Linked DNA regions of Homo sapiens. The main gene of each other region encodes a partner of the protein of the gene in region 2 in a complex. Each region holds a gene or a part of one and is shown on either strand. Other genes may lie near its edges.

Region 1 (7,026 bases), on a different chromosome or scaffold from region 2:
CAGCTAGCTCTCTTGCTGAAAATGAGCAACATAAGTACATGAAAAACCCAACAAGTAGGATTTGAAAGCGGGGCTAATTGTACCCTTATTTCTTCTGGGGATAAAAGTCTTAAACTTTGTTTAAAGTAAAATGTTTTTATTTCTGACGGTGATTTGTTTCACTTAAATAGCTTGTTGTTTGTTTCTTTCATTTCTCTTAAGTTTTGGGTTGGGTTTGGTTTGTTTCCCGCAAGTTTTGCCCGTGCCGCCTTCCTCCTTGTGCCTGCAGGGACATTTGCTGGTGTGGCAGCCTCCAGGCCCGTCCCCAGCCTTTTTCTTGGCACACCTTCTCTAGGATGGCTGGGACAGTGACTTAGCTTCTACACCTGTGACTAACCATTTTCATTCCATTCTACAGCTTTGACAATTATTCTGCCAATGTTATGGTAGATGGAAAACCGGTGAATCTGGGCTTATGGGATACAGCTGGACAAGAAGATTATGACAGATTACGCCCCCTATCCTATCCGCAAACAGTAAGGATTGCAGCTGACTTTTAATGTGTCTTTTAGAGTATATAATTCTCGAGCGCTTAATTAGTGCATGTTACCTATGGACTTGCTTATATTGCCATCATTTGGGTATTGAGTAAATAGCAAACAGGGTGGGATTGGTTCCATGTAAACATCCCCCTAGATGCAAGCCCAGGGGTTTTGTGTTTTGAGCGTTACCAGCTGTTCCATTGTTGGGCATTTTACAGTCTTCCATTTAGCTTTAGAATAACCGTATGAAAGAGCTACTTTTTGTTTTTGCAAACCAGTTTTTAACACCAATTAGTTTGAAGGCAGGTTTGCTGTGTGACATTTTTGTACCACAGAATCAAATTAGGCAGTTAAGATTCAGGTTTCTTTAAACCAAGTTAGTAACTAATCTCACAGGTTTAATACATTTTTTCCCACAAAATACATAATTTGTATGGATTTTGTGAACCATACAATAGAACCTAAATTTATTCAATGTAGATTGAAGTTTTGGTTTTGTAAAATGTATCCACTGTGTCTAATCAGAAAAAAAAGTTTACTTTTGCTTCTGTATCAGACAACTAAGTGATTTATTTACCAAAGCTAATTAGAGCAGTAGCTGGTGAAAATGGGTACTTAGAAGACATTGTTGTCATTAAAAGTTACTTTTCTTTAAGCAGCGGTTTTACTTGTGTATCATTTGCTTATCTTGTTACATGTTTGTTCTTCATTTTTAAAAGTATCTTTGGAAGCAAAAGTTAAATATGCTTGAGATTCCTTGGGTTGATAACCTGTGTGCATGTCCTAGCTCTGTGACTTCAGGCAGGCTTCATCCTCTCTCCAGTCTTTGCCTGTTTCCTTGTAGGGTGAGATGAGTACGTGTCACGCACGCATAACAGTCCTGGGCACATAGCACACACTGTGGGGCCAGCCGCTGTCAGAATTCTCCTGTTCCTCAGTGTGCGGGTGGGTCGGCCTAAAGAGTGCTGCTTTCCACGTTGTGCCCAAATGAGTGGAAGTTGTGTGGTGCTCAGCACACCTGGGTTGGCCGGAGGGATTGGGGTTGGGGTTGGGTTGAGGTCAGGAAGACATCCTAGAGAAAGGCTGGCTTTGAGCCCTGATTGATGATGAGGCAGCCTGTGATTGATTCAACCAGTACTTCGTTGTAGGGGGTAATATGGGTGAAATAACTTAGTGGTTAAGTCTGCTGTATTAAAAATCAGTCTATAATCCCCAGACAATTCAAATTCTTCAGTATCTTAGGAAACTCTTCTATACCCAGTGGATGTTTAATAATTCAGATTGTAAATGGATTTAAAAACATACTGGCTGGTAGAGTAGGAGACTTCAGCCCACTGGACACATGTGGAAGGGTGTGGTGTCATTCTGAGAAACAAGAGCCACCCTGCTGTGACTCAGGGGGTACCGGGCAGGGTGAGGCCTCTCTAAGGAAGGCCTCACAGTAAGTCAAGGGTGACTTGGCAGGAGTCCCACTTTGTGTTCTGAGGAACACACAGATAAGGAAAGAGAACTCTCCTCAGCTTGAACAAAGCTGTAGAGTGTGACGCCTGGTATCAAAGTAGGTGTTGTCCTCATAGGGCTAGAACTTAAACTTCATGTTTCCTCTGTGTGAGACTGTGGACTGCTTTCCTATAAAATATTTGAGGAGCAAGGAGGGAGTGGGACATGGTTCTTGCCCTCAGGTAGTTCACAGAAAAGTCCCATAAACTGTGTAAGACACCCTGTGCTAGCAAGGGGGTGAGCCGGGCGCTTAAGGAGCAAGAGGGGCGAGCACCCACCCAGCAGTGGAAGCATTCCTGTCTGGACTCCTTCAGAGATAAGGAAATTATCTTGACAACTCAGGGGCAGGCCACAGATGCTCAGATACCAGTGTCTGGAAGGTCTCATCCCTTTGAGCCACACTGTCCTAAGAAGAACTGGATCTGGTAGTAACATGCTGGCACCTGGGTCTCTTGTTGATAAAGGGGAAACCTCTAAATTTTGTACTACATGGAATGTGGTCCCTGATTGCTGGCTCTGTGGTCTGCAGACCTGTTGATGTAGCTCATCCAAGACTGCTTAGACACTCTCCTGAAGGACCAGTTGGAAGATTTCTTATCTAGGGTGTCCTAAAAAGAGATGTTACATTTCTTGTGGTCATTTAACATTGGCATCCTCTCTATTGGGCAGCTCTGTCGGGCTAAGTCTGTTCAGACCATTCATTTCTTCTTCGTTCTCCAAAAGATGGTGAGCAGGTAGTCGCCATTCTTAGTTGAAATTGCCCTTCAGGTTTTTATTTCCCGAATTACGTAATCCTTACATTATTTTCTCTTGAAAATCTTTGCTAAGTTCTGCATACTCATCTTCAGTTGCTATGCACAGAATCAAGTCTTGTCAGAGTAACGCTCAAGTCCAGCATCTTCCCTTGTGTAGATCACCTGTATTTATTTGCCTGCTTGTACCAGCATTGGTGGTGTGAGTGGGAGCCTAAGTGACCTGTCAGTGTCACAGCGAGTCCTGAGCCCTGTGTGTGTCCTGAGACTCAGGCTGTGCAGCGGGTTCGCTGAGATGCTGAGCCTCCATGTTGGGGTCAGCCAGGACCCCAGTGCGTCATGCCAGTTGTTTCATTTTCTCTCTAGGCTAAAAGTTGTTGTTGTTGTTGTTGTTGTTTGAGACAGAGTTTCGCTCTTGTTGCCCAGGCTGGAGTGCAATGGTGTGATCTTGGCTCACTGCAACCTCCGCTTCCCAGGTTCAAGTGACTTTCCCGCCCTAGTCTCTCAAGTAGCTGGGACTACAGGCATGTGCTACCATGCCTGGCTAATTTTGTTTTGTATTTTATTTTTTTTGAGACGGAGTCTTGCTCTGTCGCCCAGGCTGGAGTGCAATGGTGCGATCTTGGCTCACTGCAAGCTTCACCTCCTGGGTTCACGCCATTCTCCTGCCTCAGCCTCCCAAGTAGCTGGGACTACAGGCGCCCGCCACCACACCTGACTAATTTTTTATATTTTTAGTAGAGACGGGGTTTCACCATGTTAGCCAGGATGGTCTTGATCTCCTGAGCTTGTGATCCGCCCGCCTTGGCCTCCCCAAGTGCTGGGATTACAAATTTTGTATTTTTAGTAGAGACGGGGGTTTCTCCACTTTGGTCAGGCTGGTCTCCAACTCCTGACCTCAGGTGATCCGCCTGCCTCTGCCTCCCAAAGTGCTGGGATTACAGGCGTGAGCCACTACGCCTGGCCAGTGCTAGAGGTTTTAAAGTGGTGGGCTAGACTCCTGTGATGGTAGATAAAAAGAAAAACTGTGGTGTTCAGCTTGGCAGTTTTGAGTTTCAAAAGGCCTCAGCTTTTGTGAGGTTGGCTGTTACAAGTGCAGCCAGAGAGCACCAGGCACACACATGTGGTTCCGCAGAACTAGAGTTGTTACTCTTCGCCGCGAGGGAAACACGCACCTGGGGACTGTGGGAATTCGGCCCTCACTCTTACTGGCCGGGAGCAGGGGATATTTGGTGATTTTTGTGGTTTGTATGATGATCTTGGATTTGTCACTACTTAGAAACGATTATGAGTTGTTTTTTTTAAAGTTTACTTACTTTTGGTCCTATTTCAGCACAGTCACACAGGTGACCTTCTCTGATGTTAGTGTTCTGCGAGATTATTCTATTCAATAGTAACACCTCCACCAGGGCGAAGCTGCGAGTGCCAGGCTGGTTCTCATACGTCAGGGCTGCCTGACCCTTTTACAGGATTACAGGCGTGAGCCACTGCGCCTGGCCAGAATGTCTGTGTGTTTTAAAATTCCAAACTTGAAAGTAAAATCCAGGTGGATAGCATTTGGAAGAGAATAAAACGAAGTAGAAACAACACTACTTTTTTGTAGTGAGATCTCAGCTGTCCAGATGCCCGCCCTGTCTTACTCCATGGAAAGTGGACCCATCTGTTGTGGATGGTTCCACCAGTGGGCAGGAGGCTGTGGGAAGAGCAGCCCTGGCTACACTTACCACCGAGGAGGGAGTGGTGTGTGATGCAGGAGTAACAAAGGCGTTGAAGGCACCACGTGTGTAACAGGCACGCGGGAGTCTGGGTTAGTCAGAAAGGGGAAAGCAGTGCTCAGGTTGACTGGAAACATAGGCCGGTGACCGGAGACAGCCTGAGGCTCCAGAACACACAAGTGACCTGTGAGGAAGGAAACTGAGAGACCCTGGAGAGACACCGGTGGTGCCCTCTCAGGTCCTCTTGAGTGTTACGAGGACGGGGAAGAAATAGAGCCTCCCAGCCAGGGTCAGCCAGCACAGCCTCTGTATGTGAAGCGTCAGGACAGCGACGGCCGGGAGGAGGGGATGCTAGGAAGTGAGTACCAGAAGCACTAGACAGGGTTTTGGGAAGCTATATTTAGCTGGGGACGAAGAAGGAACAAGGAAGGAACAGGCAGATGGCATAGCACGAACGCCGGGTGGAAAGTGGAACTGCTCGCTCCTGTCGTGTGTGTCTCTTCTCCATCAAAAAAGAGGCTCTTAAAAATCGAAAGCATGCCACAGATACGATCAGAGGCTCTTTGGAAGCTGCATTTTTGTAACTGGTTCTCGATGATCCTCTCCCATGGTAAAGATTTGGCACCATATGAAGTCCTTGGGAGGACAAATCTTCAACAGTAGCCCATAGATGAAACCCAGATAGCTGTGGAAACTAATGTGCTCTTTGAATGTTAAGTCAGGAAAGCTTGAGTGGCCTGGCACGGTGGCTCACGCCTGTAATCCCAGCACTTTGGGAGGCCGAGGTGGGCGGATCACGAGGTCAGGAGATCGAGACCATCCTGGCTAACACGTTGAAACCTCGTCTCTACTAAAAATACAAAAAATTAGCCGGGCGTGGTGGCGGGCACCTGTGGTCCCAGCTACTCGGGAGGCTGAGGCAGGGAGAATGGTGTGAACCTGGGAGGCGGAGCTTGCAGTGAGCCAAGATCGTGCCACTGCACTCCAGCCTGGGCGACAGAGCGAGACTCCCTCTCAAAAACAAAAAAAAAAAAAAAAAAGAAAAGAAACCCCGTCTCTACTAAAAATACAAAAAATTTAGCTGGGCGCAGTGGCGGATACCTGTAGTCCCAGCTACTGGGGATGCTGAGGCAGGAGAATGGCGTGAACCCGGGAGGTGGAGCTTGCAGTGAGCCGAGATCGCGCCACTGCACTCCAGCCTGGGCGACAGAGCGAGACTCTGTCTCAAAAAAAAAAAAGAAAAAAAAGAAAAAAAGAAAAGCTTGAGTGAGATGAAATTAAAATAATTTTCTCATTTTGAGACAGGGTCTCGCTCTGTCACCCAGACTGGAGTGCAGTGTCACAATCTCGCCTCACTGCAACCTCCACCTCCCGGGTTCAAGCAGTTCTCTGCCTCAGCCTCCCGAGTAGCTGGGATTACAGGTGCCTGCCACCATGCCCGGCTAATTTTTTGTATTTTTAGTAGACACAGGGTTTCACCATCTTGGCCAGGTTGGCCTTGAACTCCTGACCTCGTGATCCACCTGCCTCGGCCTCCCAAGGTGTTGGGATTAGAGGCGTGAGCGCTTTTCTTAAAAGAGTTCCAGGGTTCTATGTTGGAAGAGCGAGTTTGTCAGTTTTTATTGGAACAAAGAAATGAATTGACAGCATTGTGATAAACACTGGAAGTGTCACTTCTAAAATTTGTCCATGGCTGAAAGTGGTGGCTCATGCCTGTAATCCCAGCACGTTGGGAAGCCAAGGTGGGTGGAGCACCTGAGGTCAAGAGTTTGAGACCAGCCTGGCCAACATGGTGAAACCTGGTCTCTACTAAAAATACAAAAAATTAGCTGGGCGTGGTGGTGTGTGCCTGTAGTCCCAGCTACTTGGGAGGCTAAGGCAGGAGAATCGCTTGAACCCAGGAGGCAGAGGTTGCAGTGAGCTGAGATCTCACCATTGCACTCCAGCCTGGGCAACAGAGCAAGACTCCGTCTCAAAAACGCTTGTCCTTAAGGGGTGGCTTCCCCCAGACCTACAAAGTAGCCCAGAATTGGAGGTCTTAGTGTCAGCAACAGTGCTGATTTTGATAATGCAAGTCTGTACATTCAAACCAGTCTCCCAGAACTAGGTGGAAGATAGGAACATTTCTGCATAGGAGACTTGGAATGTTCTGGCAGCATTAAAACCCTGAGGCCCGGCTATGTTCTGGGAGAGCCCTTTGGCAGGCATCATTTACAGACGGGTCCTTTTCCTGTATGCTGTGGCTTCAACTAGGCTGTGTCTGAGAACTCGGATGGAGCACTTGAAAGTGCCCGTGGCTCCCGCCTGCCTTTGCGGTAAGGGACAGTGCAGAACATCTCCGGCTGTGCCAGCTGTTGTAGATTCTGGTGGGTGCTGCCATGGGAGGAGGAGCACGTTGTTGCCCCCCCTCAGGATCTCCCTGACCTCTGTCTTCACCATCGTTGAACTTAACGCCTGCTTTTGACCAGGTAGCGTGGAGTGTTTCAGTGGCATTTGTCATCGAAGATATGTTAGAATCTATTGTATGCTTTTGGATCT
Region 2 (7,502 bases):
TTGGCTCTATCCTTTGAGGAGCTTAAGAAAGAAGTCTCATGTACCAGAAAAAGTTAAAGAGCGATAGAACACTAAAATCTAAATGTAGGAATGAAAAAGTATTTCCTGAGTGCCCAGGAATAATGAGTTTTATTTTGATTTTACAGGCTTCTTCCTCAGAAAAAAAAAGGAGGGTCTTGGGAGTGTTCTTGGCTTCCAGCTGAATAAATACATGCAACAGTAGTTTGTAGTGTTAACCAATCATATGCAAATCTTGCTTATTTGGAATTTTGGAATAATTTTGAAAATATCGAGATGAAACTGAGTTACCCAACCAATGCCTCAACAAATTTTATTTAACAAGTAATGTTTATTGAACACCTGCTATATGCCAAGCCCTGTACTAGGTACCGAGAATCCAGTGGTGTGTGTGTCAGAACATTTTAAACCATAACTAATAGAAAACTTGATATGAATGACTTAAACAATAAACAAACTTATTATCTAACCAAACAAGAAATTCCAAGGTAGATCAGTTTCAGACTTGTAGAAAACGTTATTTTTATCTTTTAAGAGATGGAGTCTTGCTCAGTCACCTAGGCTGGAATGCAGTGGCGTGATCATCACTCACTGCAGCCTTTGAAGTCCTGAGCTCAAATGATCCTCCCACCTTAGCCTCCTGAGAAGCTGGGGCTACAGGCATGTGCCACCATGCCTGGCTAATTTTTAGTGTTTTTCTGTAGAGATGGGGTCTGGCTTCATTGCCCAGGCTGGTCTCTAACTCCTGACCTCAAGGGATCTTCCCACCTAAGTGTTGGGATTACAGATGTGAGCCATTGTGCCCAGCCAGATTTGCAGAAAACAGATAATGCAACACATCTCATCAGCATAACTAAGCATCTGAGCTCTTTGTAATTTTCCATTCTCTTTTCTTTCAGACAATGGCTTGTTCTTAGTTGTCTCCCCTCATGATTATAAGACAGCTGCCATATTCCAGACACATCTCACAATGCTGTCTAGTAGAGAAACAAGTGCTGTTTCTTCTCATGTGTTTTATTTTTTATCACTGGGGAAGAAATCTTTCCCAGAAATTCTTAGCAGACTTTCCCTCCTGAAGCGCATGGCTTCAGGAAACTGGAGGCTTGAACAGAACTGGGGTTCTACCAAAAGGAGGAAGGCGAATGGACAGTGGCTGAACAGACCGTCTACTAACAGCACCAAGTAATGATTAAATAGACTGCCCCTGCATTGAGGGACAGAAACAATGTCACAGATGACATACAGTTACAAACTGTAACAAATACATGATCAGAGAGAACCGTGCACATAGCAAGGTCATGGATCTAGAAAGGCCACTCATTGAGGAAGTGAAAGATGAGTAGGAACTAGCCAGGCAGGCTTGGGGGAAGAGTGTTACATGGGCGGAGGAAGAGGCTGGCTCATATGAAACCATGAAAGGAGGCCTGTGTAGCTGGAGTTCTTGGGAGAGGAGGAGGGGAAATGACCTGGAATGAGCACAGGGCAGCAGGCAGGGGGCTTCCTGCAGCATGGGAAGGAGTTCGGGTTATATCCTGAGAGCAGTGCAAAGCCATGGAAGGTTTAAAAACAGGGGCCATGAAGTGATCTGACTTGTGTTTTTAAAAGCTCAATCTGGATGGAGAGGCAAAGAAATGTTAAAAGACTATCATGTTCACCTGGGAGTTGATAGTGGCTTGGCCTGAGTGGTGACAGGAGAAGGGGAGGGAAAGTGGATGAAATGGAGCATGAATGGCTTTGCTAGTGCCCTGGGGGATACAAACATGGGTTAGCCCAGGACTTCCTCCTGAGGCACACTATTTGAGGTGCTAAGACTTGCATGCACATACATTGGTGAAGAGTGATTAAGGGCCACATGGGAGGTGCGGAGAAGGAGATGCAGGAGTTCAGAAGGCGAGATCATGGGTTTGAGCGCTTTCAGGCAGGACTGATTTCAGGGCAGTGTGTTAAGGAGAGTGCTATTTTAGCAGGCCTTCGAAGGCTATGCAAGGTGGGTTTGAAGGTGCAGACATGGGAGAGGGCAGCCTAGAAAGAGGAACTAGCACGAGTCGCACAGATGCAGGAATGAAGGCATAGCGGGAGAAGAGTAAGCAGCAGAGTTTGTATGGGATTGTGAAGGAAAGTTCTGGGGATAAGGCTAGAAAAGTCTTGGCAGTCAGATTAAGGAGAGTTCTGAGTGTCAGGGTGGGATAATAGGAGGGCAAAAACATTTTTTAAAAATGAAGTCTAATTTAGCTACAAATCCATTTGGTTTTCTCAGGAATAATTAATGTGCTATTCAAGTCCTGATTATTTATTCACTAGATGGAATAGCAATACCTCTTTCTGCCATCACTGCTACCTGCAGGTCATTTACCAATGATTTCTAATTTCTTTTAGAATGTATCCCTTCATCATGTATTGAGTATCTGTGCTAGAGATCCTAGAATGAAAAGGCATGGTCCCAACTTCCAAGGAGCCCATGAATTGAGCAGATAAAGAGATAAATTGCAGTAAGTATGATGCAAGTTTTTGGGTAAAGGTGGTACAAAGGAGAGGAAAATTCTCCTACTACCCAGAGTTCAGGGCTAGATTTAGCACAGTTGGTGACATTTAAACTGGGCTTTGAAAGATGAGTAGGAGTTTGCCAGGCAAAGAAGAGAGCTGGGAAGGCCTTGTAAACACAGGAAAACAATCTGGACAAAGACACACATGTCTTCTTAATTCTCACACCTTCAATCCTACAAGCACTGTGGAGTATACATTTTTAAGTTTTATTTTCAGGCTTTTAGGGGAAGCTTGGTGATAATGAGTGAATTCTTTCAGTTGCTACAAAACAAGAGTTTGCATCTAAGTATTTGACCCCCATAAACATGCATTTTACCTAAAAAGAAGCCTGGATTTTAGCAAGCCAAATTGGCTATACCCTTTACCCCCAGTTATTCCTCTGGGAGGTTTTACTGATTTTTACTTTTCTGGAAAAGCAAGGAAAGAACTCTTAAATCTGTTTTTTCAGAGACTAGTAAATCCATTAGTCATCAGTGCAGGACTTTCATCTCTTCAATTTTTCACTGGAAGATGGGAGAAGTCATAATTCACTGTCATGTGGCTCCCAATTTTGACATTTGCAGGAAATTGGTCCCCTCTGAACTTCATGAATGTTCATAAAAGTTATTTCGGCTGGGCACGGTGGCTCACTCCTGTAATCCCAGCACTTTGAGGGGAGGCCGAGGAGGCCGAATCACCTGAGGTCAGGAGTTCGAGACCATCAGCCTGGCCAACATGGTGAAACCCCATCTCTACTAAAAATACAAAAATTAGCAGGGCGTGGTGGCAGGCTTCTGTAATCCCAGCTACTCAGGAGGCTGAGGCAGGAGAATTGCTTGAACCCAGGAGGCAGAGGTTGCAATGAGCTGAGATCGTGTCACTGCATTCCAGCCTGGGCAACAAGAGTGAAACTCCGTCTCAAAAAAAAAAAAAAAAAAGTTATTTCAGGCCCAGATCAGATGGATCTCCAAAGATTATCCTGTCTCAAAAATTTGTTAATGATAATTTCAGCTCAAGATAAACACTAACATATTAATACAGCCTATGGGATTACAAAAAAGTGAGCAAGGAATTCATTCAAGACTGGAAAGAATTATCCTCTCATCTGACACTCCCATTTAACAAGGGTGTGGAAATCAAGGCCCAGTGACACAGGATTTTTTCTCCATCACTTTGTAAGCCAGGAACCTCTGGCTGGTGACACCCTGCCCAGGCCTCAGTGGGCCACACTACCTGCTGCAGGAGATGGCCTGCCCACTCGGCCTGGGTGGGGAGTTTTATTGAGTGATGAAAACAGCTTTCAGTGGAGAGGGGATGCAGGGGTGGTTCCCCTACCCAAAGGCAGGAAAGTCCCCCCAGTGCGGGTGAGTCTGGGGCTTTTATGGGCTCAGAATAGGGGAGGGGCAGGACATAGGTAGTACTGGAAAAGGCAACATTCAATTGGTTAAAAGGCATTAGTCAGAAATAATTAATTGGGAAAGAGCAGACAAACAGGAACAGAAGTTCTCACTCTAGGTCACGGGTTTCATTTGGGACCAGTAGCCTAGTCTTTCAGCCTTCAGGCTGTTTTTGGCTTGAAGGTGGGGTTTCACCAGGGACCTGCCCCTATCTGCCTAGGCATTTGGCTGCCTCCTGTCATTATCACCAGGGAGGTGCCTCTACCTGCCAAGGTTACCCTGGCTCTAGAAGCAGAACTTTGGCCAGAAGCTGCCACAGAACAGGGGTGGGAGAGAGAAGAGGAGCTGGGTGACAGAGCAGAAGCATTTTGGGGAACTGATCCTTCAGGCAGCAGCTGATGTACTTCCTCTCTCCTCCACACTCCACCCCTACTCGCCCTCTCTCTCTCTGCTTCTTTCCTTTTCTCTCTCATGGTAGGGTTATGAGTCAGTTGCCAAAAGGTGGGGACATTTCCTGATGCATTTGCAACACTGAGAAGTTATCTTAAGGGAGGCTGGGCCCCATTCTACTCATCTGGCCCAGAAAGTGAACACCTTGGGGGCCACTAAGGCAGCCCTGCTAGGGGAGACGCTCCAACCTGTCTTCTCTCTGTCTCCTGGCAGCTCTCTTGGCCTCCTAGTTTCTACCTAATCATGTCCCTGGTGGAGGCCATCAGCCTCTGGAATGAAGGGGTGCTGGCAGCGGACAAGAAGGACTGGAAGGGAGCCCTGGATGCCTTCAGTGCCGTCCAGGACCCCCACTCCCGGATTTGCTTCAACATTGGCTGCATGTACACTATCCTGAAGAACATGACTGAAGCAGAGAAGGTGAGTGGAGGTGCCTCTTTCCGGGCCTCCTCTGTGCATTTGTTATTATGATTCTCAACCCCATTGCATTTCGGAAACCTAACCTCTGGGGAGATTGAAAAGAACAAAAGTTGCCCAAGCTCCACCCCTAGACAGCCTGATTTAACTGGTCTGGGAGGGGCCCCAGGCAGCCAGTTTTAAAAGCTCTCCAGGTGGAGAGCAGGTGAGGGGCAGCCAGGGTTGCCTCTTTCTCCATCTTCTAAATTAAAATCATTCTACAAGTGTCTTTAACACCTTTGTGAAGGCTGTCCTAGTCGTACTTTCTTCTACACAGAACTCCTTCTGGGCACAGAATCTCTATCTATCCCAGCGCTTTACACCTGATTATTGATTCTAAGGCACCTCTTTTGGCTTTCCAAGACTTTCATGTGTGTCGACTTTGCCTGCTCAAGAGATTTAAGGGAGGCACTTACAAAAAATAGCTTTTATCCCAAGTGACAATTCTGATCAATTATAAAGGAGACTCTTTTAAAGATGCTGAGGCTGGCAAGAGGAAATTGTACTGTGATTGACTAGTGATGTCTGCTGGGGGCATGGTGTGGGATGTCTCGCATCTTTTTCGTTATGTTTTCTCACTCAAATACCATAGTATGGAGTTAAGCATTCTCGATAATTATTTTTTTGATTGGTTGTGGTAAGGTGGAAAGGGTATGGAGTTTGGAAGGAGAAGATCTAGGATCGAATCCTAGCCTCTGTCTCTCTCTGGACTTTTAGTCTTAAGCAAGCTATGTAGCCTATGTAGACATCTGGCTTTCAGCTTCCTGAGTTTCTAAATATCATGAAAATTAAGTGAGATGCCAAACTATTAATGTCTCGTGGAACTTCACACCACTGTATAAGAGTTAGTTATTATTTTTACCGATTACTGCCAGTCTTTGCAAGGTGTGGCAGTGGTTGACTCCCCAGGTCCCTTAAAGAATCAGTCCCTTCCACACTCCAACAGTAGGTAAACAAGCCTCAGCCACACCCTCCTGACAGGAAGACAGAGAAGTGACTGAAATGTTCTCACATAGCTTGACAAGTCAATCTCAGGCTCTAAGGCAGAGCATGGCAGGACCCCCCACCTCTGGCTGGAGGAAGGACATGGCCCCACCTCCTCTCAGGGGCCTGCTGAGGGGCTGAGTGAACAGCACCACACATTCTGAGGGCTGATGGACACAAAGTGCACATTGTCCAGGAGAAGAGATTGGCAGCTAGTCTGGGCACAGCTATGCCAGCAGGGACTGTAGCCTCCTGCCTTGGCCTGGATATGGGATCCTTGGCAAGGTTGTGTGGGCCACCACTCACTTCTCAGCTCCCAGGCCTTCAGGCCCACATGTCTCTGTTTCTCCTGGCATTCCTCTGCTTCTAGCCTTCTCATTCCTTCTGCCTTTCTTTGTTTTCCTGCTTGAGCCCTTCCTACTAGCATTTATATGCATTCTTATTCATTATCATTTTAATTGTATACTATTCATGTATAAGTTTGTATAGTAAACAAATATAACAATTTATATAATATTTTAATTATTTTCATTTGCAATAAATTTTATTATTTATTTAAACTGAATGTTCAATACATTCATAGGAATACAAGAAATGCAACAAGGGTTAAAATTTCATTATTACATTAGATATCATTTTTTCTTTCTTTTTTTTTTTTTTTGAGATGGAGTCTCACTCTGTCACCCAGGCTGGAGTGCAGTGGTGCAATCTCGGCTCACTGCAACCTCTGCCTCCTGGGTTCAAGTGATTCTCCTGCCTCAGCCTCCCAAGTAGCTGGGATTACAGGCATGCACCACCAAGCCCGTCTAATGATGTTTCATTTTTCAAAGAAGCTTCTCCTATTTCCCTATCTTTTTTATCTTCCACAGAGCAATAAATAGTAATTACTACTCTCCTGGACAAGGTGCTCTGTTGTGTTGGATAGGAATTGTATCTTTAAGTTTGACATCATTATCACCTCCAAAAACTCTACCTTCACTTCATAGCACAGTCTCGCTGCATTGTTTCACAGTAAAATTGTACTCTACTCAAACTAGGAGAACTCAAAGAAATTAGAGCAAACAGCAGTTAAATTCATATGAATGAAAGACAGAAGACCAAAGATTTTAAAGTACTGATTTAGTAACATAGTGTCTACTGGCTCAAAGCTTCTATCTAATCATATTAAATCATATTATTAAAACAGCGATAATAGAAATGAAAGCTACACTAATGAAAAAGGAACTTGGGAATGAGGTCATTAAATATAACTAACTATATTTTAAATATAGATATGTATTTTTTATTAGTATCAGGTAAATGTCTAAATTATCTATTCTGAATTCTAGTCTCAGAGAAGGTCAGAGACAGTTACAAAGAAGGCGCTTCATATTGTCAAGTCCATTTTTAAAATGATGAGCTCCTTTGGGAAAATGCTTTAGTGTTTCTTTTCTTCTAAGATTTCTGTTGGTGATAATCCATTAGTGTCTGCACCCTTATAGTCCACTTTGTCTTTATTTGTATCATTGGATTTTTTTTTTTTTTTTTTTTTTTTTTTTTTGAGACAGGGTGCCTTACTTTGTTGCCCAGGCTGGAGTGCAGTGGTGCCGTCACAGCTCACGGCAGTCTCCACCTCCTGGGCTTGAGCGATTGACCTACCTCAGTCCCCCAAGTAGCTGGGACCACAGGCATGTGCCA
Region 3 (7,026 bases), on a different chromosome or scaffold from region 2:
TGTAACTTATCACTATCAAACAATCTTTGACATTCCTTTAAGGGAAAACCATTACATTATAGTTTCTTTTTGTCCATTTTTAAGCAGGGGGTATTTATATTATCAATTAGCATTATTTGAGCATTTGGCAGCACAACCCACATTTATTTCCTCATGGAAGAGACAAGTTAGAAGTTTTCCTTGTTGAAAATGAAATGCACTCCCCGAGGGCCAGACTCAGAGTTGGAGATGCTTTGTTTACTCAGGGTTTCAGCCAAGGCTTCAGGTCCACAGAGGAAAACTCCTATTCTGGTACTTTTGGGAAAGAAAAAAAAAGACAATTTCAAGCTTTGGGATGAGATGTCTACAAAGCAGGTAGGTGAATTTCCCGTTAATTTGAGGCCCCAGGGCAGAGTCCCCTCTGCTCCTTTTTCTTTTCCACAAATAGCAAAGGGATCATATTGCTCAGAGGGAGTGTGGTTCAGCCTGTTTGTGTGAGCATCTGGATAGTTCAAAAGGTAGTTGACTTCCCTGGCAAAAGTAAAATCCAACCAAGGTTTTTGGAAACTTCTATCACAGAGAAAATGGTGGTGAATTCATGAGTCCGTGGGCTACTTTCCTTCAGGGCTCTGTGCCCCCTGGCATCTTGAAATTAGGAACAAGCTAACTATGCCAACCACTCAGTGTGGCTTCATTTCTCTAAATTTTAGAGTCTGAAGCCCTGTTCAAAGTGTGGTTTCTGATCAGTAGCCTTGGCGTCAGCTTTTTAAAAAATGCAGATTACCTGGCCCTACCTCAAATCTTCTAAATTGGTATCTGCATTTTAAAGAGATCCCCAGGCACTTTGTATGCTCCTTACAGTGCAAAAAGCAATAGTCTGAAGGGTACACGTATGGTGATCTCTTGAGTTTCTTAGGTGTTCTAGCAAGATAAGGGATCCCCCTCAAGGTTTTATAATGACTAAAGTTTTAGTGAGAGCAGAAAGCACCTTGAGACATCTGTCAACTTAAGATTTTAGACCCAGAAGCTTTTAGAACTGAAAGTGGGGACAGTGTCTTCTTAACAATATGTATAAATTATATTGAATCTTTAAAAGAAGTAGATACACTAATGAAATTTAGGTGACTAAAGAAAAGAACTAAGCTGTGGCCCTACTTGGGACAGGCAGGTTGAGAAAATCTGAGATGGGGACCTGGAAATACTTGTTTTTAATTAATCTCCAGGTAATTTGGTATAATTTAAAGATCCTTCTTAAAGTTGAAGATATCTGGAATCTTCTGTTGGGCATGAATTCAATCTTTATATAGTAATATACATATTTGAGTTTCTAAAATATATAAGTTTAGATATGTATAGGGGCTGCCGCTTTAGGCAGATGCAAGCCTCAAAAACATCTTGGTGACAGACTCCTTACTTAGGGTGTTGACTTGCAATTGTCTTGAATTCATTATCCCAGTTGGGCCGTCCATACAAAGTCTTTTGTTTCAGGCCTGTGATCACATCTTTCTCCTCATCATGGTGCACAGCAAAGTGATTGGCCTACAGGAAAGGACATGAATTCAGAAAAAAAAGAGACATTCTGTAAAAGCACATACAATGTATTTACATCCTTCACAAGCTATTCTAACCAAGGCACCCTGCTGGATGCTGAAAGGTAAACAAAGATAAATAAACTGGATCTCTCTCAAGCAATTTACAGTCTAGAAAGGGAGACTTCGAAGTATAAATATAAATAATCCCATATGTCGAACAGGGTATGATGTGTGTCATGAAGGAGGCACAAGCGTCCTAATGAGAACAAAGAAGGAAGGTGAAGTGGAAGAATAGGGGAAGGGTTAGGGCCGCAGTATTTGAGTCAGGCATTGATGGATGAATAGTGTCTCACTGTTTTTCTCTCTGCTCTATGTTTGACTTTTTCTCTCCACCCTAATATACTTCCACTCCTTTGGGAGAATTACTAAGAGATGTAACAATTTTAGACTAAAATGCAGCAATACTTTGGTAGCATAAGACATCAAATCAAGCCTAAAGCTAGTGTGTGTGTATGTGTGTGTGTGCACGCACATATGTGTATATAGTCACATACTGTTTTTCTGCTACCATTCTAGGAGGCTTCAGTTTGAGCAACAGGTATTTTTCATAAAAGTGGTTAATTAAATTTATTTTTAAAAAGCAAATCAGATTTGAAATTCACTAGATGGATGATGGTCATAGAGGAGGTTAAGAAAGGTGGGCACTCCAATTTAATAATTCTATAGATATCAGTTTTGCAAAGCAAAATAATTACTTTTTCAATACAAATAAATAACTGATTTAAAAAAGAAACCTGTGCATGGCTTTTAAAATAACAGAACAGTAAAGCAATTTATATACTATAGATTTTTTTCCTGAGTTTTATTTTTATCAAAGCATTTTTGTTTTGTTTTTAAATTGCAGAACTGGCATTTTGAAACCACTTTTTATGGAGCAACAATTCTTATCGTTATGTTTCCCTAATCTATATTTGCTACAAGATTCCTTTAAGACTTGGAGAATCTGTGATAAACAATATGTTGAAACCCAAATGGGAATTCAGTCTTCACAGTGACAGGGTGCACATGGAAGATTCCCAGGGTTGTGGAGTCAATGTCTATGTATGCCCAGTTGCTACAGTTTGAATGTATCCTCTCCAAAATTCAGATGTTGCCTATGTGATAGCATTAAGAAGTGGAGCCTTAAAAAGGTGATTAAGACATGAAGGATCATCCCTTATGAATGAGTTAAGGGCTTTGGAAAAGAGTCATCACACAGTATTTGACGAGCCTTCCCTTTTTCTTTCCACCATGTGAAAACACAGTATTTCTCCCACCCAGAAGATGCAGCCTTTGCTAGACAACCAAACCTGTTGGTGTCTTGATCTTGGACTTGCCAGCCTCCAGAACTTTGAGAAAATAAATTTCTGTTCTTTACAAACTACCCAGTCTTGGGTGTTTTGTTATAGCAGCACAAATGGACTAAGACACCAGCTGAGACACTGGACAGAAATATGCAGAGACTCTTGCCTTAGCTCCTCACTCATGGTGATAGCTTATGCTGCTTCCAGGCCAAGTCATTAACGTTTGCTTACTTACAAAGATGTTACCACTCCAGGAATCATTACCTTGTTTCAGGGTTTGTCAATTTCAGCACTGTTGATATTTGGGACTGTATAATTCTTTGTTGTGGGGGGCTGTCTTTTTAATTGTAGGATATTTACATTGCCAACTGTCTCTGGTGTGTGTCTTGGGGAGGAGCAGAGCAAAATTGTCCCAGTTGAGAACTATTGGCTACTTTATTATAGTGGTCTCCAAACATTTTTGAAAGAGCACTCTCATTGTACACACACATACACACACACATACATGCATATATATCACATTCATTAGATATATAGTAATTTATTTATAAATGATAATCATGAACTACTGCAAGATGCTGAAAGGACAGGCTCTGGCACATTCTGTCTCTGTCACTTACTTGTTGGGTGCTCTTAGGAAAATGACCTAACCTGGTCTGAGTTTTTTCATCTGTAAAGTGTGGAAAATAATAAGAGCTACTTCATAGGGTTGGTGACATGATAAAATTAGACAATCTATGTGACTAGATACATAAGAATAATACCTGGCAATATATATGCATAATAATTATAAATGTAGTGAGTATATTATAAAACATACAAAAGCATATAAATTAAATGATTTTATAAATACATATATACATAGTACATATAAATATATATGATACATATATAAATACATATTAAAATATATATATACAGAATCCTTTATATGCTTATGTATGTTATATAAACAGATGCTCCTCAGCTTACAATGGTGTTATATCCTGATAAAACCATCACTAAATTGAAAATACCATAAGTCTAAAATGGGTTTAATACATCTAACTTAATAAACATCATAGTTAGTTTAGTCTAGACTACCTTAAATGTGCTCAGAACACTTATATTAGCCTACAATTGCACAAAATCATCTAACATGAACCCTATTTATAATAAAAGGTTTAAGACCACATGTAATTTATTGAATACAGTACTGAAGTATGGCTTGTACTGAAGTATGGCTTCTACTGAATGCATATTGCTTTCACTTCATTGTAAAGTTGAAAAATCATAAGTTGAACCATTATTAAGTTGGGGAGTGTCTGTTTTACACACACACACACACACACACAGAGACAGAGAGAGAGAGACAGAGAGACAGAGAGAGAGACAGAGAGAAAGAGAAAGCTAAATTTTCCCCAAAATAACCCTGTGCATCATCTCAATCACCTGGTTTCAGAGTGCCTGGTGGGAGAATTGCTCTAATAATGTCAAAGTGATGGCTTTTATTCCCTCACAGGCTCCTTGGCTTTGATTCTAATCTGAGCAGTCTAAATATAATGTGGCGATACTAAATGAGAGTGAATGGACCGGATCACCAAATCCACTAAACATACTTAGAAAAAATAGTACACAAGACACACCAATAACCAAGGGGAAGTTCGTAAGCCCTGTACACTATGGGAAGGACCTGAGCCTTGGAGTCTTGTCCTTACCTGAGACTCATCCCAGCCAGTGAGGTAGATGTTGTAGCTGAGGAAGCCGGCATTGTTCCTTTCCTGCATCTGGCTCTCCAGCAGTTGCAGCAGATCTGCAAACCACTCAAAGGCATGTGTGTCCCGGCACAGCCAGTAGAAGTAGATCTGAAAATGGGGTGGATCATGAAGCAGATTATATTTGGCAGGCCCTATCAGCATTACCATGTGGAATTCCACTTTCTGTCACCTAAACTTTTTCTTGATGCTCAGAATGCCTAGAAACATAGATTTTCAGAAGGCTCTGGACATTTCACAGGGTAGTTTACATGAACCTGCTCTGGCCTTCACTCTAGCAGGGCAGTAAATAAGTAACTTGACCTCAGAAATACACAACTTAAGAAAAAACTATTAGCCCACCAAATTTCCCTCTGAGTCTGCTCTTACTCTCCCAGAATCTCTGGCTTCCTTCGAACCTCTTCTCAGAAAGCCTGATGGAATCTAGACTAGCAGGGATTGCCACAGAAATTCTTCCCTGGCTGCTACTGCCAGACATTCATGAGTTCCGAGGGGAAAAATAAGGTTCTATGCACATCTCCTCCACATGGAAAAGAGGTACAGGGAGAATGAAAAGTCAAGGTAGGCTTAATGTCCCTATTAGAGTTTATCTTTACAGTTATTAGAATGGCCTGAGGTTTATTTAGGATGCCCTTTATTACACAATAAAACCAAATTTATAGGTAACCAAAAAATCTCCTGTGAATTGATCCTGAGGAGATATTCATAAGTAGAGTTTCAGGTCTCCTCTCCTCCCTTTGCAAAAAAAGTATTGGGTGAGTGGAGGGGGTGGGGCGCGGCTGGAAATTGAATCAATCTCAGTATCTAACACAAGATGAAAGAAAAATTATTCAATATCCTCTCAATAGAACATGAAGAGATCATTTAAAGTCATCATTATAAAGCCTGTGAAGACATTGAAAAACACTTTCTATAATGTTTTTTTAAAAGCAGGACATGAAATTATACATACTTAATATTTACAACCTTCTAAAAATATGTAAACATGGAAAATATTAGAAGAGAATATACAAAAATTACAGCTATTAAGTTGGGGCTGTGAATACTTTCCCAACTTTCTTTCTTCTGAATTTCCAGCAACACTATACAAATACAATATATTCCCTTCACTAATAGGCCTACTTATCTAGAAGCACATTAGATTTAACAAATATTCTTTTGAAGAAAAGCCTGTCTCTCTGGAACCACCGGAAGCTTTTCTTCACTTCCCATGGTCTCTGCCAACCTTAGCCCTGAAAGCACTCTCAGGCCTCACATGGCAGAGTATGGTTACTGCTCTAAGGCCCTCCGATAAATGAAAGGACTTACCTTTTTGAGCTTCAGATTGGTGGCGTTATTGCAATATTTGTACCAGACTGACTTGAGAATGGATGCGAAGGGTGTGACCCCAATCCCTGCTCCCACTAACATCACCACCTCATAGCTGAACACATCTTCACTGGCAGTGCCAAAGGGCCCATCAACCGCTATCCTGAAGGGAAATGGGGAGGAGATAGTTACAGAGATGTCTTGCTCTTCAGAGTGAGATGGGGCACCCATAATTATTGGGGATGTGCAACATGTTAATTCAAATTGGAATAATGTATCTATTGGGTGCTTCCTTCTATGAAATAGCTTTCAAGTAACCAAACTTAGTGCCAACGTTGGGTTTGGAAGTAAAAAGAGAAATATTTGGCTAACCAAAAACATTCGGTAACTCAGAACAAGTTTTTTTTTTTTTTAATCTCCCCACCCCTCTTCACACACAACAACGCCCCCTCCACACACACCCTATGTCTTGCCAGGACATCCCACTCTTGAAATTCTTGCATACGGTGCACCCTGAAGTGAGGATTTGCTGCATCATTACATCTTGTAGATTTAATGTCTCCACTTTTCATTTATCTATTCATTGAGTTATTCAACAAACTCTCAAACCTTTCTTTAGCACCTACTAAGTGCCTTATAGCATGTTAGGCATGCAGGGAAAAGGAGGCAAAGGGGCTAATATATGGCATTTAACCTCAAATAAATTATGCCAATGAAAATTTAAGAATATTTTTGATACACTACAATTATATTTGTTAGGAAAGTTAATATAACTTGGCCTTGACCCTTACATATTTAAAGGAATTTGGGAGTATTTATTTCTAATATTTGATTCAAGGTTTTCATATTTCACATAAGATTTATGAAAATATGCATAAACACACTACACATATGAAACGGTGACCACAGAAATAGCTACCTATATTCTTAGAACCTGTGTGTTTTGTTGGAGACTTAGTAAAACATGGAGGAAGAGGAGCTATTTAGTGCCATTTTTCCTGAACTCATATACGTTGGTAATATGTACTTTTTACTCACTTAGGTAGTTTCCACGCATCTTGAAACTCCTGCTTATCACAGCCACAAGCATTGAACAGCCCCTCTGTCCAG

The links. Proteins that work in one complex are often made in the same cells at the same time.
Region 1: NCF2 (region 2) and RAC1 share a complex: the UniProt entries of both Homo sapiens proteins name them as parts of the phagocyte NADPH oxidase complex.
Region 3: NCF2 (region 2) and CYBB share a complex: the UniProt entries of both Homo sapiens proteins name them as parts of the phagocyte NADPH oxidase complex.

Annotation. Positions count from the first base shown.
Region 1 is NC_000007.14:6,391,527-6,398,552, forward strand, and holds part of RAC1 (ras-related C3 botulinum toxin substrate 1), read left to right. Parts: intron 1-397; coding exon 398-515; intron 516-7,026. UniProt on the Homo sapiens protein: Plasma membrane-associated small GTPase which cycles between active GTP-bound and inactive GDP-bound states.
Region 2 is NC_000001.11:183,587,459-183,594,960, reverse strand, and holds the start of NCF2 (neutrophil cytosol factor 2), read left to right. Parts: upstream 1-4,501; 5' UTR 4,502-4,631; coding exon 4,632-4,805; intron 4,806-7,502. UniProt on the Homo sapiens protein: Subunit of the phagocyte NADPH oxidase complex that mediates the transfer of electrons from cytosolic NADPH to O2 to produce the superoxide anion (O2(-)).
Region 3 is NC_000023.11:37,804,059-37,811,084, reverse strand, and holds part of CYBB (NADPH oxidase 2), read right to left. Parts: coding exon 6,955-7,026; intron 6,080-6,954; coding exon 5,917-6,079; intron 4,699-5,916; coding exon 4,552-4,698; intron 1,519-4,551; coding exon 1,394-1,518; intron 295-1,393; coding exon 168-294; 3' UTR 1-167. UniProt on the Homo sapiens protein: Catalytic subunit of the phagocyte NADPH oxidase complex that mediates the transfer of electrons from cytosolic NADPH to O2 to produce the superoxide anion (O2(-)).